Linked DNA regions of Homo sapiens. The protein of the gene in region 2 binds, or shares a complex with, the protein of the main gene of each other region. Each region holds a gene or a part of one and is shown on either strand. Other genes may lie near its edges.

Region 1 (7,490 bases), on a different chromosome or scaffold from region 2:
TGAACCCATGGAGGGGGTCATGGGAACCCCCAATTCATAGCCAGTTGGTCAGAAGCACAGGTCACAATGTGGAACCTGTTATTGGCATTGGAAGTGGGGGCAGTCTTGTGGGACTGATCCCTTAACTTGTGGGATCTGTCCTAACTCTGGTTAATGTCAGAATTGAGTGAAATGATTGCTTATCCTGTTGGTGTCTGTTGAAGAATTGGTTGGTGGTGGGTAGAAACTCCCTCACTTACTGGTGGAGTACAACTGGCCCTTAAACAATGTGAGCCTGAACTGCGAGGGTCCCACTTACACATGGATTTTTTTTTTCAATCAAATGAGGATCAAAAAGACGGGATTCTCAGGATGCAGGAACTCAAGTGTAGGGAGGGCTGACCTTTCATACACACAGTATAGATTGTGGGATTTTAGTATGGTTGGATTTTTGTATCTGAAGGGCTCCTGGAACTAATCCCCTTCCTCTACCCAGAGAGGACTGTACTCTGTGTTGAGCGGTGACTTGTGTGTGAGAGTAGGAAAAACTCTGATTTTTCCTAAGTTTTCTAAATTATTAGTCCTGGGGTGGGGTGTGGTGGCTCATGCCTGTAATCCTAGCACGTTGGGAGGCTGAGGCAGGAGGATCACTTGAGGTCAGTAGTTCCAGATCAGCCTGGGCAATATGGTGAAACCCTGTCTCTACTAAAAATAGAAAAATTACCAGGGGGTTGGGGAGGGGGGGTGGCGGGCACCTATAATCCCAGCTACTCAGGAGGCTGAGGCAGGAGAATTGCTTGAACTTGGGAGGTAGAGGTTGCAGTGCGTGAAGATTGCTCCACTGCACTCCAGCCTGGGCAACAGAGCAAGACTCCATCTCAAAAAATAAAATTAAATTAAATTAAAATAGCTAAGTGCGGTGGCTCACATCTGTAATCCTAGCACTTTAGGAGCCCAAGGCAGGCAGATCACTTGAGATCAGGAGTTTGAAACCAGCCTGGCCAACAAGGTGAAACCCTGTCTCTACTAAAAAAAAATACAGGCCAGGCGTGGTGGCTCACGCCTGTAATCCCAACAGTTTGGGAGGCCAAGGAGGGCAGATCACAAGGTCAAGAAATTGAGACCATCCTGGCCAACATGGTGAAACCCCGTCTCTGTTAAAAATACAAAAATTAGCTGGGCGTGGTGGTGCACACCTGTAATCCCAGCTACTCAGGAGGCTGAGGTGGGAGAATCGCTTGAACCTGGGAGGTGGAAGTTGCAGTGAGCTGAGATCATACCACTGCACTCTAGCCTGGGCGACAGAGCGAGACTCTGTCTCAAGAGTCTCAAGTTATTTAAAAAATAAATAAATAAATAAAATTATTAGCCCTATGTGTCAGCAGTCTTAAATGAGTATCAAAGGACAGTATCATCCCAGCTAAATTGATTAAGCACCTTTTATACACCGGGCATTACACTAGGCAGTGGAAATGTAAAGAAGATTAAGGTAAGACCCTGCCCTCAAGTCGCACAACTTACACACAACTTAGCACAACTAACAAGAAAGACTTTTCCCTTTTCCGCTGGAGCTCTGTTTGGCAGGTCAAAGCTTTGGAAAACCAATGGAGTGGATTTTTTCCTGAATATCCATAATTATCCTATTCAGAGACAAGGAAATTAATGACATCAACTGCTTTTCTAAGCAGCAGTCTGAGCAGTTTCTGCCTTTGTCCCTAGAAAAAGTACCAGGCAGAAGGAAACTCTGCTAATTCAATTAGATGTGAAGAACTAACCTATGAGAAAGTGATCATTCAGTGCTGTAGGAGTGCTACATGGAGGAGAGTAGTATTCAAAGACAAAATGCTTAGAGAAGGATGTGTAGTTCATTATTTGAGTCAGCTGATTGTGTTGACATTTTCTTAGGGGTGGGTGGGTGGGGAGTGAAAATCTGGAAAGAGAAGGCATTTCATTTAGAACACATTGTATTTTTTCTTGTGAATATAAGATGAAAATCTTTTATTCAATAGCAATACAGGTCTCGCATAAATGAAGTTCTAATTTTCATAACAGTTGTTAAGTTCTCTGTAAATCTGACAGTCACTTAATACCAACTTTAAAATGGACATTGTTAAGTATGATTCAGTGAGGTCTTCAGGTATAATAATAGGCTATAACCAAAACTTCCTATTAAGCAGAGGCAAACTCTGCCGGGTGTGGTGGCTCACACCGATAAGCCCAGCACTTTGGGAAGCTGAGGCAGGTGGATCGCTTTTTTTGTTTGTTTTTTGAGACAGAGTCTCGCTTTGTCGCTCAAGCTGGAGTGCAGTGGCGCGATCTCGGCTCACTGCAGGCTCCGCCTCCTGGTTTCACGCCATTCTCCTGCCTCAGCCTCCTGAGTAGCTGGCAATACAGACGCCCGCACACCACGCCCGGCTAATTTTTTGTATTTTCAGTAGAGACAGGGTTTCACCGTGTTAGCCAGGATGGTCTCAATCTCCTGATCTCGTGATCCGCCCACCTTGGCCTCCCAAAGTGCTGGGATTACAGGCGTGAGCCACCGCGCCCGGCCTAACTTGTATTTTTAGTAGAGACGGGGGTTCCACCACGTTGGCCAGGCTGGTCTCGAACTCCTGACCTCACGTGATCCATCTGCCTCGGCCTCCCAAATTGCTGAGATTACAGGTGTGAGCCACTGCGCCTGGCCGGTATGTGTTTTTTTAATCCCTAAAGCTTGGTAGTTTAATATTAAATTCAAATTACTGTAGCCTAGGACTCTTTTGAAAAATACTTGACAGCTTCGTTTTTGACCTATCTCATTAGGCTGAGTTCTCTTTTATCTTTACAATACAGATGTTTAAAATTAAAATACAGATCGGCCGGGCGCGGTGGCTCACGCCTGTAATCCCAGCACTTTGGGAGGCCGAGACGAGCGGATCACGAGGTCAGGAGATCCAGACCATCCTGTCTAACACGGTGTAAACCTCGTCTCTAATAACAATACAAAAAAAATTAGCCGGGCGTGATGGCGGGCGCCTCTAGTCCCAGCTACTCCGGAGACTGAGGCAGGAGAATGTTGTGAACCCGGGAGGCGGGCTTGCAGCGAGCCGACATCGCGCCACTGCACTCCAGCCTGGGCTACAGAGCAAGACTCCGTCTCAAAAAAAAGAAAAAAGAAAATTAAAATACAGATCTAGATCTGGATTTTGTTAGGTTTTTTTTTTTTTTAACAACCTAAGGTTGTTCAGAAACATCTATTCTATGTATGTGCTTCTTTAGTCTGTAATTTCTAGGCAGATTAGTTGCACCCTGTCTAGACTCCTTTCAGAAAAATACTAACAATATGTTTTTCTCTGTCTTGGGCTCCACATGGGTGAATTACAGGAAAGCTTAACAGGTACTCAGAGCAACATTTTTTCCTACTTCATGAAGGGCCTAAATGCGAACTCTTAAGTATTTCTCGTTTGCTTTTGTTCTTTTCCCAGGTTTACCTAATCTGTAAGTGTAAGATGCAGTCGATGAAAAGTACTATGGGAATTCTTGAGCAAATCAGACCATTCAAAAGGAAACCACTTCACGTAATGGTGCATAAGGAAGCTAGACTCACCAAAATAACCCTGTTAGGTAAGCCGGATACACCATGGAATACGGCAATCCTCTGTTTAATTTGCAAACCCTTTGGCGGGGAGGAGGAAAGGATGGAAAAATTTGGGTGAAGGCTTTATATGACTAGTCAAACAAACGGTGAGTCATTGAAATTTTCCAGTTAACAATCCCTTCTGCCTGGGCAGAGCCTGGGCCCCAGCGCTTTATGAGCCACACTGCAGTTTTAAGCCGGAATATCTCACGGTTTTATTGTTTCTTCCACGAAATGATTACATAAAATGAAATCAGCTTTGCAATCTGCACCGGCTTTGAAATGAAGGGCAAAATCTGGCTGGGGGTGAGGAGAAAGAAGGTGGAGAGAGAATAAGGTACGGAGACTGTGAGGCAGAGAACGCAGGAAAGGTGGTGAAAAGAGAGTACAAGAATTTTCGGGAGCTGAGTGTATTTTTCTTCCCCATGTTATAGATGCTGTCCGTTTTCCCCCAGCCTGTGTCCAGCAGGCCAGAGTGGACCCCTCCTATGGGCTAAAATACTCTCGGTCTTCGGCCCAGCACAGAGCTGCACCAACCAGGGCCTGCCGCTGCCCCCCCACCAGGTGACAGGTGGGGCCGCCGAGCGGCCACCAGACCTCCGCCTCCTCGCGTTGCCTGCCGGGAGCCGGAGCCGCTTCCGGTTGCGCCCTGTCCCTGAACTTCGACTCCCGTCGGCCCCCGGGAAAACCGCAGCGGGGTAGCGCGGGCGCTGCCGGAACTTGTAGTTCCACCTCCCGCCGCGCTAAATAGCCGGAAACGGGGGCGGCCAGAACAGAGAACTACCGAGGCGAAGGTACGGGTGGCGGCGAGGGGTCAATCCGCGCCGGGGGTGGGGTTGGCTGTGAGGCCGTCGGAGGTGGTTGGGTGGGAGGAGATCCGCTCACACACACGAGGAGGAGGGTTGAGCTGCCGCCGCCGCCGCCTCTGTCGTCGTCGCGAGTGTGGAGTCGGGACTGGAGCTGCTGCCGCGGCGACGCCGGGGATCTTTGTCGCTAGCTCCCGGCCCTTCTGCCCCGCCGCCTTCCCTCAGTCAGCGTTGCCCACTCCTCTCCGGCCGGGCGCCCCTGCCTCCATTTCCCGCTCTCTGTCCACCACACACACGGCCCCCCCGATCATGGATCCGGGCAGTGGCGGCGGCGGCGGCGGCGGCGGCGGCGGCGGGAGCAGCAGCGGCAGCAGCAGCAGCGACTCGGCGCCTGACTGCTGGGACCAGGCGGACATGGAAGCCCCCGGGCCGGGCCCTTGCGGCGGCGGCGGCTCCCTGGCGGCGGCGGCCGAGGCCCAGCGGGAGAACCTCAGCGCGGCCTTCAGCCGGCAACTCAACGTCAACGCCAAGCCCTTCGTGCCCAACGTCCACGCCGCCGAGTTCGTGCCGTCCTTCCTGCGGGGCCCGGCAGCGCCGCCACCCCCAGTTGGCGGCGCCGCCAATAACCACGGAGCCGGCAGCGGCGCGGGAGGCCGTGCGGGTAAAGGCCCGGGACGCGGGAGGAAGTCCGGCCGGGCGCCGGAGCCCACATGGCGTAGGGGTGCGGTCCGGGGGCGCGCGGCCCTGGGGCCCGGTCGGCACGTGGGGCGCTGACAGTGGCGCCGTCTGCCTGGGTGGGGCGCCCCGAGCCCGGGAGCCGGCCTTCGCGGGGCGGCCCGCGGCGGTGGCCGGGCGGGGAGCGGACAGCGGGCAGCGCGCCCAAAGACCCGGACCCGAGTGCCGCCCCTCCGCGCCCCTGCCCTGCTCTGGAGTCCGCAGTTACCCACTTGAGATGGGAACCGTATGGAACGGAGTGGGGGCCGCGGCGGATCCCTGCCACGAGGCGCAGAATGAGGACAGATGGAGCCAGGAGTCATTTGGGTGGGCGTTTAGAGATCCCAGGAGTTGGGGAGGACGAATGGCCGAGTTTTCCTTTCACCTTAGGCCCAGCCGAGAGAGCGTCTTCTGCTGCGTTTTCTACTATTGAAACTGTAATTACGGTTTAAACTGTCCGTGGCCCCCAACCGTCCTGAAGGAATCCCAAGATGCATTGCAGCCTTGTGATCGGGCAGAAACTTGGCTATCAATACCAAGATCTGTTTTACCCTTAGCATTGTGTACGCTTCTAAAGTTTACAAAGTGCCACAAAGTTAGGATTCCTCACTTAATGTGTGATAGGAGACTATATTGATTTGTGTCTTTTTAAAGTGAAGCTTACACTTTTATCCTTTGTCAGCGACACGTTTAGAGAATTTTCATTGCTGTAAAATCGTTGACCTTATTCAGATTGCTTGGAATAACTCACTGTGTTCGTGCATCAGTAGTTCAGTCTATTTCTTCAGACACTTGAGCATTTGTTATAATTTAATAGTTCTCACGTGTCTTTCTGACCGTAGCTAGTAGACATACATTTTCTAATCCATAAAATTTCGAGTTAACTTTGGTTTTTAAACATCTTCCCGTACTTAGGGGTTGCTTAAGTCGTAGGTAGCATGCTTGCAGGTGCTGACGTTGTAGGAATATCCGGTGAGTGAACTTATGTATTCTCATAATGGTGCTTATTTTGTGGTAGGTAGCTTGCTTTCAGGTACTGATTTTGTGGGAATGTCAAATGAGTGAACTTAAGTATTCTCTTCCTAATGGTGCTTATTTTAGGAACTATCAGTGTTTCCTTAAAGAGAAAATGAAAAAGGAAGGAAAAGGCTGAACGTCCTTTCATCATTTAGCCAGGACGTTAGTGGGGTGGGTCATGACATCCAGCGCATTTTAAGTGAGAACATATTGTTGATTTCTCTCTTTAAAGTTCTGTATTGTGGTGGTTCTTAGATAAGTGGACATTATAAAAGTGCTCCAGGAGTTTGGTTTCTACAGAAACTTTTGTCACCGTTTGCTCTTTCGTGGTAAAGGGATAGTGTCTGGAGAAACACTCTGATGACGTATGTACGTCAGCACGGTTGATTTGGTGGTTTTGTTGACAGTGGCATTTATTTGTGTGGGTGGTTGATGTTTTCTTTTGAGGAGATCGAGCACTTTCAGGGTGGTACGGCTCTAGACAATGTTTTCCTCTTGAATAAGGAAGCTTAGCTTGTAATTCTTGACTTACATCAAGCCATTTTGACTGCCTAACCTAGTTCACTTCTCAGCTCCTAAAAGTGCCCATTCCCTACCTTACTTTGCAGATTCCGTTTATCCAGCCATTTTCTTTCTTGGCTCTTCCTCCTTTCTGTGGAGCCACCAGCACCACTCTGACTAGACTCAGGACTCCATTTACAGCCTGTCCAGCGAGTCATCCGGGGATAACCAACCTTGGTCTAGAATGGTCACTGTTGGTGACTAGGTATTACCTCTTATGCGGGCTTTCTCTCTTCCTGATAGTTGCTAATTTGTAGTTACACCTAATCTTTTTCTCTTTGACAGTGCTAGAAATTGGAGATGCGAAAACCTGTAGGGAAGTAGCTGTCAGTAAGAGAATCCGTACAGCATGGTCAACTTTCTTGTTTTTAATCAAAAAACTATTTTGGTGTTACCGACTTTACCAATTGCTTGTACCAAAATGCCAGTTCATGTTTTTAAAAAATTATCCTATGTAGGATGTCTATTTGGAAAAGAACTGATTTTCTAAGTTGAGGTCCAGGGTTATATTGAGACTGTTGGATTGCATGTTCCAGACTATTAAGTCCATAAAAAGCCAGCATCGGAGAACAATCAGTGCTTATAAAAAGCAGGGGGATAAATAGGAAATAACACCTGGATTGGAACTTACAAAGGGGGAACCAAAAAGTTTGCAAGGTTTTTTTGATAGCGAGGAAGTGGACAATAGGGCTAGCATGTTCTGTTCTTTAGTTAAGCCATAGCCGAAATTTGTGCTGGGTGTGTTTTTAAACTGCATGCCGGGAAAGCTGTTGAAGGAGCCTGGAGAGTCAGACCTT
Region 2 (7,431 bases):
GGGCTTTTTCATTTCCAAAACAATACTGTTACTCAACCACTAAGTCTCACTACCTTGTCCTAATAACCATGCCTGAAAACCTCAGTTTCCTCCTGAAAACCAGAGTATCCCCAAAACATCAGCAAATACAGATTCATTTTGCCATCCACTTAAGTCTTTAAAGCCCATTACAATTCTTCTAAAGATATTTTATCACTAGGTAAAGTAGGAATAACATTTTCCACTGTACCCTATCTATGAAAATCTAGAGTCTGACTTTAACACAAGTTGGCAATGAAAATATTCCCACCTCCAAAAACTGGTATATACTGGGGAATCTTCTGACTCCCTTACCAATACTCAGAGATGGCCAAGATTTTAAATTTCCATGGGATCAAGATGCAACCAAATCCTGATTAAAAGCAAAGTAGGACATGATTATTAACCACAATGTGTAGCGGAAGGTCCTCCAGCTATTTTAGACAGCTTAATCATGTCTGAAATATCCAAACTCAACAACTTGAAATACAAGTTGTGTCTTATAACTTCATTTTTAGCATGCTTTAAACTTTACTGAACTTTGCTAAACAAAGAGGTAAAGCCTTCAAAAGCCTTAAAGAGGCGCTTAAAAGTTTCTAGTGGCTAGGTAACATGGGTAGAACAAATTTAAGAATGAGTTTCCTTCATTAAGCAGTAGAAAGGAATGCTGTTACTTATTAAGCAATGTCATCTTCAATGTTACTTCATTCAAACAGGCAAATTATAGTCATGATTTAATTTTTTGGACTGTTTCAGAGAATATAACGTATGCAAATTAAAATGTGTAAACCTGCCTGCTACTGAAAGCAGTAAGAACAAATCCAGAGGTCACATCCACCTATATACAATACTGCAACAACAGCAATCTATAAAATGCAATACTGGATTGAAGGCTTCAAGTAACAAAACAAGATCCTACTGAAACAAAAGAACCTGGCTAATTCTTGGTAGTGCAACATAATGGGTCGTGACCTATGTTACCCTTTCTGTACAGTATTCTCACATTTTGGGAATAACTGGTCACTCTATCATACGGCACAAGTTCCTGTAAGATCATTAAGAAGGTCTGGATATTCTATTGAATTCAAAGAAAAACCTAAGGACTAACAAGCCGCTGTCTTCGATTCATATTAAACTAACGTTTCTCCAGTAAACCGAAGGAGTGAGCACAAGCCCGTCACTGAATGGGGCCAAACTTTTAGAAGCCTCATTCCAAACAGAACTGTCCCTAATTTATTAAGAACAAAACACTAGTAAAACCAACCTGTGAATTGGGCCTTCAGTACAATTAAGCACATCCTGTTTCATATAACAGTAATAATGAAGAGCTTGGAGGGGCTGTCATTCTAAAATTGCAAATCTACCCATAAATGACAATCCTGGGCTGGAAACCAGAATGTCAAATTCTTGTGCTGAAATCAACTTTTCACATGGCCTGAGGCAGGCCATTCTACTATTCTAAGAATGCTCAGACATACAAGTATGTAATAATGTTCCAAACACTTTTTTTTGGGGGGGGGGGCACTTCCTGTAAGTAAAAAGTTTCTATGACTGGGAAAGGAACAAAATAAAGTAATAAAAGAAACAGGAATACCCCTGGCACACCTTCCTCAAACGAACAACGTTAAAAAAAAAAGAAAACACACACACACAGCTAATTTTAATCTAGCCTACTCTCCCCCCAATGGACACACCTACAGTTTCTTATCAAAATGTACAAGACTCAAAGCCCATTTAATTCAATTATGAATCTCACTCAACAAGCATCAAGCACATCAGGCGCCTCTCTACAGCGATATCCCCACAAGTTTCAGAGAAATGCCAGCAGGGACTCTGTAGTTATGATTCCTATCAAACGGCCCCCTAACCCGTATTTCTCCTGGACATACACATGCAGATTCATTAACCAAAACCTACCCAGCACCCCTCACATCGCGCGTACGTTGGCATTTTCAGTTTATAGGTGGGTCCTGGAACAGCTAAAACCAGGAAGCTCCGGGGTAATTAGAGGACTTGGGAGAAGTCATCTTGGGACAGGTGGAAGACCCAGAGAAATCAGGAATCAGAAAGAAGCTGTCCCTGGCCACCTCTGCTTCCCGTCCCATCCAAACTTCACCCACCCGGGTCTCAGAAGCCCAGAAGGGAGAGGCCATTTTAATGAGGCCTGGCTGAGAAATGAAGGGAGAAGAGGAAATCAGGGAAGGGCCCTGGGAAAGGAAGGCCGAACACTTTGCCACAATAGCACCCGAGTCGGGTGGCAGCACCTGGAGCCCGAAGAGGGAGGACCTGGACTTAAGGGCCCGGGAGAGGTGCAAAAGTAGCGGTGGCCTACCACGAGGGGGGCCGAGTGATCTAAACCGGGGAGCGCGGGCCCCTTACCCCCATGCGGGGAAAGGACCCCTTCTCGGGCCAACCGCGCCGACCCTCGCCCCTGGGTCAGGGGCTACTACCCAGAGATCCAGAAGGCGGGAGTTGGCTAGTGCCTGGTTCTCCTCATCCGGCCATGCGGCGCGGGGGCGTCCATCCTGAGGGGTCCGGGAACCAAGAGGGCACGGAGGGTGCCGGACGCGGCGCTCACCCGCGGGCCGCCTCCAAGCTCTTAATGAGCTTCTTGATCTTCCAGATCTCCACGTTCCTGTCGGCAGCACTGGGGTCGTCCGCCATCTTCTCGCCTCCTCCTCCCTAGAGCGGCCCGGCGGGGCCCGGAGACACCAAGACCACAGAGTTAGCGCCGCCGCTGGGGCAGAGCGGCCCCCTTCCTCGCCATCCCCCAGAGGCCCTCTCCTCCCGTCCGGTGCAGCTCGCCACAAAGGTCACCGGCCTTTCCCTCCCTGTGCCTTACCTAAGGGCCCAGTCCTGGGCGGCAGCGGCTGCTCCTCCCCGGCGGCGGCTCCGCGGCGGCGGCGGCTCTGACGTAGGACACCGGCTCCCTCTCTCCAGGCAGCTGCATGTGTTGCAATCCGCTCACATGGGGCCTGTGACATCACTTCCTCCGCCAGGGGCGGAGTGGAAGGCGGCAGGCGGAAGGGAGGGGGCCGGTGCGAGTGAGGAGAAGCTGGGCGTCCGCCGCGACTTCTCATTGGCTCTCTGCCCCGCAGCCTACAATGAGCCCGCCGATTGGCTGCAGCTGGGTCCGCGCCGCCTTGTGAGGTAAGGCTGGGGGGTGGGAGGTGCCACCTTTCTTCCGGCCCGGCAAGGCGAGAGGAGGAAGCGGGCGGAAGCCGGTGGCTCTCGCGAGTTTACTGAGAGCCCCCGTCAGGCTCGAATGGGGGTGGTTCTTAAAGAGAGAGGACCGGGGTCGTCGTCTTTTCAGTCCATTCTCCTTGAATAGGGTGGACATCTGAGGCTTTGCGACTCGAAGCTAGGCACTTGGGCCCGACGCGCGGTTTGAACGGTGCTTGAGAAGCCGCGAAGAAGCGCCTCGCGCTCAGCGGCTTCTTCGCTGACGAAGTGCTGCGGTCTGCGTGCGTCATGGCTGCACGGAATAGTGTGGAGGAGTCCTGGCCAGTAGGTCTGGATGAGGAACCTGCCTCCGGGCGGTCCGGGACCCTCACCTGCAGGGGCGAAAGAGGCCTGTTTTCTCTCGCCCCAGAGCTAGGACGGGCTCACTTTGGACTTAGAACTTTATGGGGTGGAAGACAGCGGGGGCTGCCTGAGCTTGGAGACCTGAGGTATCTGGTCCCATGTATGATTTGGCCTGAGCCGTTGAGAATGGGGGTGGAGAGAGTTGAAACAAAATGGGCATCCACATACGGTTAGAACTTTATCTTTTTGAGTTAGGATTTTTAGGTGGCTACTTTGTCCCCCCTCACCTCGTCTGGGTTCAAATATTGAGCCCAGACCGTGTGCTGGACCCTGTTTTCCTGGGGATACAGAGGTGAACCAAACAGATGACAGTACTTACCCTTATGGAGCTTATAGTCGATTGGGTTTTTAAGTTTGTGATTTTATACTTTTTGTAATAAAATAATTACACAAATGCTTAAGTACTTCAGGGTGCTCTGAGAGTGTATGGCGGGGACCCAGCTCTGAAATGAGACCCAAAGGATGATTAAGAGTTTGTCAGGAGGAAACAGAATACAGTTGAGAACTACAGAAACGCCAGTGTGCTGGCACAAGGTCAGGGACGGGGAGAGTGGTTTGAGGGAGCAGCAGGGGAAGAGGTCATGTAGGGTCTTTTAAGCCAGATTCAGAAGTTTGGTTTCTTTCAAGAACAGTGGGTAGTTTAAAGGGTTTAGAGCCCTGGTGTGGACTGGAGAGAGTACAGGAGAAGCCCAGAGACCATTTTGGCTGCTTCATTATCATGTGAGAGATGATTTTCGCTTACATTAGGGTGGTGACAGTGCAGATAGAAGTGAATGAAGGGCCTGGTGCAGTGGCCCACGGCTGTAATCCCAGCACTTTGGGAGGCCAAAGGGGAGGATCGCTTGAGCCCAGGAGTTTGCGAGCAGCCTGGGCAACATGGCAAGATTCCGTCTCTACAAAATTACAAAATATTAGCCTGGTGTGGTGGCCCGCGCCTGTAGTCCCAGCTGCTTGGGAGGCTGAGGTGGGAGAAACCCTTGAGCCGAGGAATTCGAGGCTGCAGTGAGCTGAGATCACACCACTACACTCCAGCCTGGGTGACAGAGCGAGACCTTGTCTCGAGGAAAAAAAAAAAGTGAATAGGACTGGATGATGGATTGGTTGAGGAAAACCAAGAATGGTTCCCAGAGTACTGAAGTGGTGACATTTACTGAGGTGGGAAAGGTGAGGAGTAGGTGTTGGGGGATGATTGAGAATTTCATCTTGGGCCTGTTAAGTTTGAGATTGCTTATGAGACATGTAAGTAGGGATGTCCGTCATGCGCTTTCATTTGTATGGTTTTTGAATACTTTTTGCATGTGTTATAAACTGTGTCCACACTTTGAAGATGGGGGTATGACCTCCATTTCATACATGGGGAAACTGAGGCAAAGAAAAGTGAAAGGGATCTGCTCAGAGTCCACAGCTAGTTTATGGCTTCCCGACTCCATTTTTGGAGTCCAGTGTATTATACAGTGACCCCATTACCTGTATTTTCATAGGGTGGGGACACGGTCATACTTCTGTCCCCCAGGAAATGAATCTCAGGTTGGAACCTCTTCTTTGGGTTCCATTTTGTAGTTTTTGGCATATGTTTATTTGTTATATAATATTGTACTCCTGCTGTGTGTGTGTCATTCACTGTGTTTAGTAGTGAACGGAGGGGTCTTCTTAGTCATAAACACTGCTTACTGACTAGGAATCAACTGTGTCCAAGGTTTTCCTTCATTCCTCTTGCCCTGGTTCCTCCTTTCTATATTAGATTGCCCTACTCTACCCTTCCTGTTCTTTTTTTTTTTTTTTTTAAAGACGGAGTCTCCCTTTGTCGCCCAGGTTGGAGTGCAGTGGCACGATCTTGGCTCACTGCAACCTCCACATCCCGGGTTCAAGCGATTCTTCTGCGGCAGCCTCCTGAGTAGCTGGGACTACAGGCGGGTGCCACCATGCCCAGCTAATTTTTTGTATTTTTATTAGAGTCGGGGTTTCACCGTGTTAGCCAGGATGGTCTCGATCTCCTGACCTCGTGATCTGCCTGCCTCGGCCTCCCAAAGTGCTGGGATTACAGGCGTGAACCACCATGCCGGGCCAGTTTTTGTATTTTTTATTTTTTATTTTTTTTTTAGCAGAGACAGGGTTTCACCATGTTGGCCAGGCTGATCTTGAATTCCTGACCTCAGGTGATCCACCTGCCTCCGCTTCCCAAAGTGCTGGGATTACATGCGTGAGCCACCACACCTGGCCTCCTCTTCCTTTTGATGTTTGTGTTTACAGCATTGCTTCAGGTCCATGCTTGAAGGCTTTCTTCTGTGTGATTCAGGCTGAAGTAAGCATGACGACATCCCAAGTAGGATTGCTGTTTTCAGCCTCTGAATTCTTAAAACTTATTTCTTAGACAATTGCAGGCCCAGGTAGCCCCAAAAGCTCCTTGCCTAGTTGCTGCAAATTCACCATCTCTGCATTTAGAATTAGAAATCAGTGCATTAGAGGCAAAGGCTGGGATAACTATCTACGTGAAGAGGTTTGGGATGTATGAAGCACGGATGGTAGTGCCTGCATCAAGGCTTTTTAAATGGGACCATGACGATTCATTGTTGAGGAATGTTCTGTGATATAAAAGTGATACAGATTTTTCAAACTGCTAAATGGTGAGAACAAAATATATAACCTCTCTAGGCACACAGATTCTCTGAAAAATAAAGGAATTGTTCTTTATGATCTCAGAACTTCCTCCTCAGCTCAAACATTATGTAACAAAGTTAAATATTGGGATATAGGTGATGTTCCTACCTAATTAGGTGGGAGTAGGCAAGTAAGTTTTTGTTTCATTTTCTTTTTTTTTTTTGAGGCAGGGTCTCACTGTTGCCCAGGCTGGAGTACAGTGGTACGATAATAACTCACTGCAACCTTGACCCCAGGACTTAAGCGATCCTTCCACCTCAGCCTCCCTAGTAGCTGGGACCACAGGCGTGGGCCATGATGCCTGGCTAATTTTTGTATTTTTAGTAGAGATGGGGGTTTCACCATGTTGCCCAGGCTGATCTCGAACTCCTGACCCCACGTGACCCACCTGCCTCAGCCTCCCTAGTAGCTGGGACCACAGGCGCAGGCCATGATGCCTGGCTAATTTTTGTATGTTTAGTAGAGATAGGGGTTTCACCATGTTGCCCAGGCTGATCTCGAACTCCTGACCTCACGTGACCCACCTGCCTCAGCCTCCCAAAGTGTTGGGATTACAGGCCTGTTATAAGTTTTGATGTTGAAAGCACAAATAAGTCTTTGTGCTTAGAGAGAACTGGTCTCTACAAAAACAAGAAAAAAAAATCAGCCAGGCACAGCAGCATGTGCCCCTAGTGCCAGCTACTGAGGAGGCTGAGGCAGGAAGATCACCGGAGCCCAGGAGTTTGAGGTTACAGTGAGCTGTGATCACTGCACTCCAGCCTGGGTAACAGAGCAAGACCCTTTCTCAAAAAAAAAAAAAAAAAAAAGCTACAGAATGAGGTTATTTGTCACTAATGTGAAGATAAGTTTAAGAGTAACGAAGATAGACCACACACAGTGACTGATGCCTGTAATCCTAGGACCTTGGGAGGCCGAAGCAGGAGGATTGCTTGAACTCAGGAGTTGGAGTACAGCCTGAGCAACCTAGTGAGACCTCATCTATACTACAAATTAAAAAAAAATTTAGCTGGGCATGGTGGTGCACACCTAAGTCGTCCCTAGTAGTAGTCCCTAGCTACTCAGGAGGATCACTGGAGTTCAGGAAAAAAAAAAAAAAGAGTAGCCAAGATGAAGGCAGGGAAGGGATGGTTGTGGTAAGATTTGCTAAAGGGCTGCCTTTGACTCTTCTGG

The links.
Region 1: the proteins of ETF1 (region 2) and GSPT1 are in contact, whole or in part, in a crystal structure (PDB 3E1Y), measured with the Homo sapiens proteins. Residues at the interface, in NP_004721.1 of Homo sapiens: Phe291, Ile294, Ser295, Gln296, Asp297, Phe303, Gln397, Ser400, Gln401, Lys404, Gly405, Phe406; in NP_001123479.1 of Homo sapiens: Ser404, Ile405, Ile406, Cys407, Pro408, Gly409, Tyr410, Asn411, Arg445, Phe446, Lys448.

What each region holds. Positions count from the first base shown.
Region 1 is NC_000016.10:11,912,941-11,920,430, reverse strand, and holds the start of GSPT1 (eukaryotic peptide chain release factor GTP-binding subunit ERF3A), read left to right. Parts: upstream 1-4,474; 5' UTR 4,475-4,710; coding exon 4,711-5,062; intron 5,063-5,218; exon of another isoform or gene 5,219-5,411; coding exon of another isoform or gene 5,412-5,442; exon of another isoform or gene 5,443-6,053; coding exon of another isoform or gene 6,054-6,087; intron 6,088-7,490. UniProt on the Homo sapiens protein: GTPase component of the eRF1-eRF3-GTP ternary complex, a ternary complex that mediates translation termination in response to the termination codons UAA, UAG and UGA.
Region 2 is NC_000005.10:138,540,237-138,547,667, forward strand, and holds the start of ETF1 (eukaryotic peptide chain release factor subunit 1), read right to left. Parts: upstream 3,001-7,431; 5' UTR 2,861-3,000; intron 2,708-2,860; exon of another isoform or gene 2,701-2,707; 5' UTR 2,683-2,700; coding exon 2,597-2,682; exon of another isoform or gene 2,398-2,596; intron 1,476-2,397; exon of another isoform or gene 1,327-1,475; coding exon of another isoform or gene 1,283-1,326; intron 1-1,282. UniProt on the Homo sapiens protein: Component of the eRF1-eRF3-GTP ternary complex, a ternary complex that mediates translation termination in response to the termination codons. The eRF1-eRF3-GTP complex binds to a stop codon in the ribosomal A-site.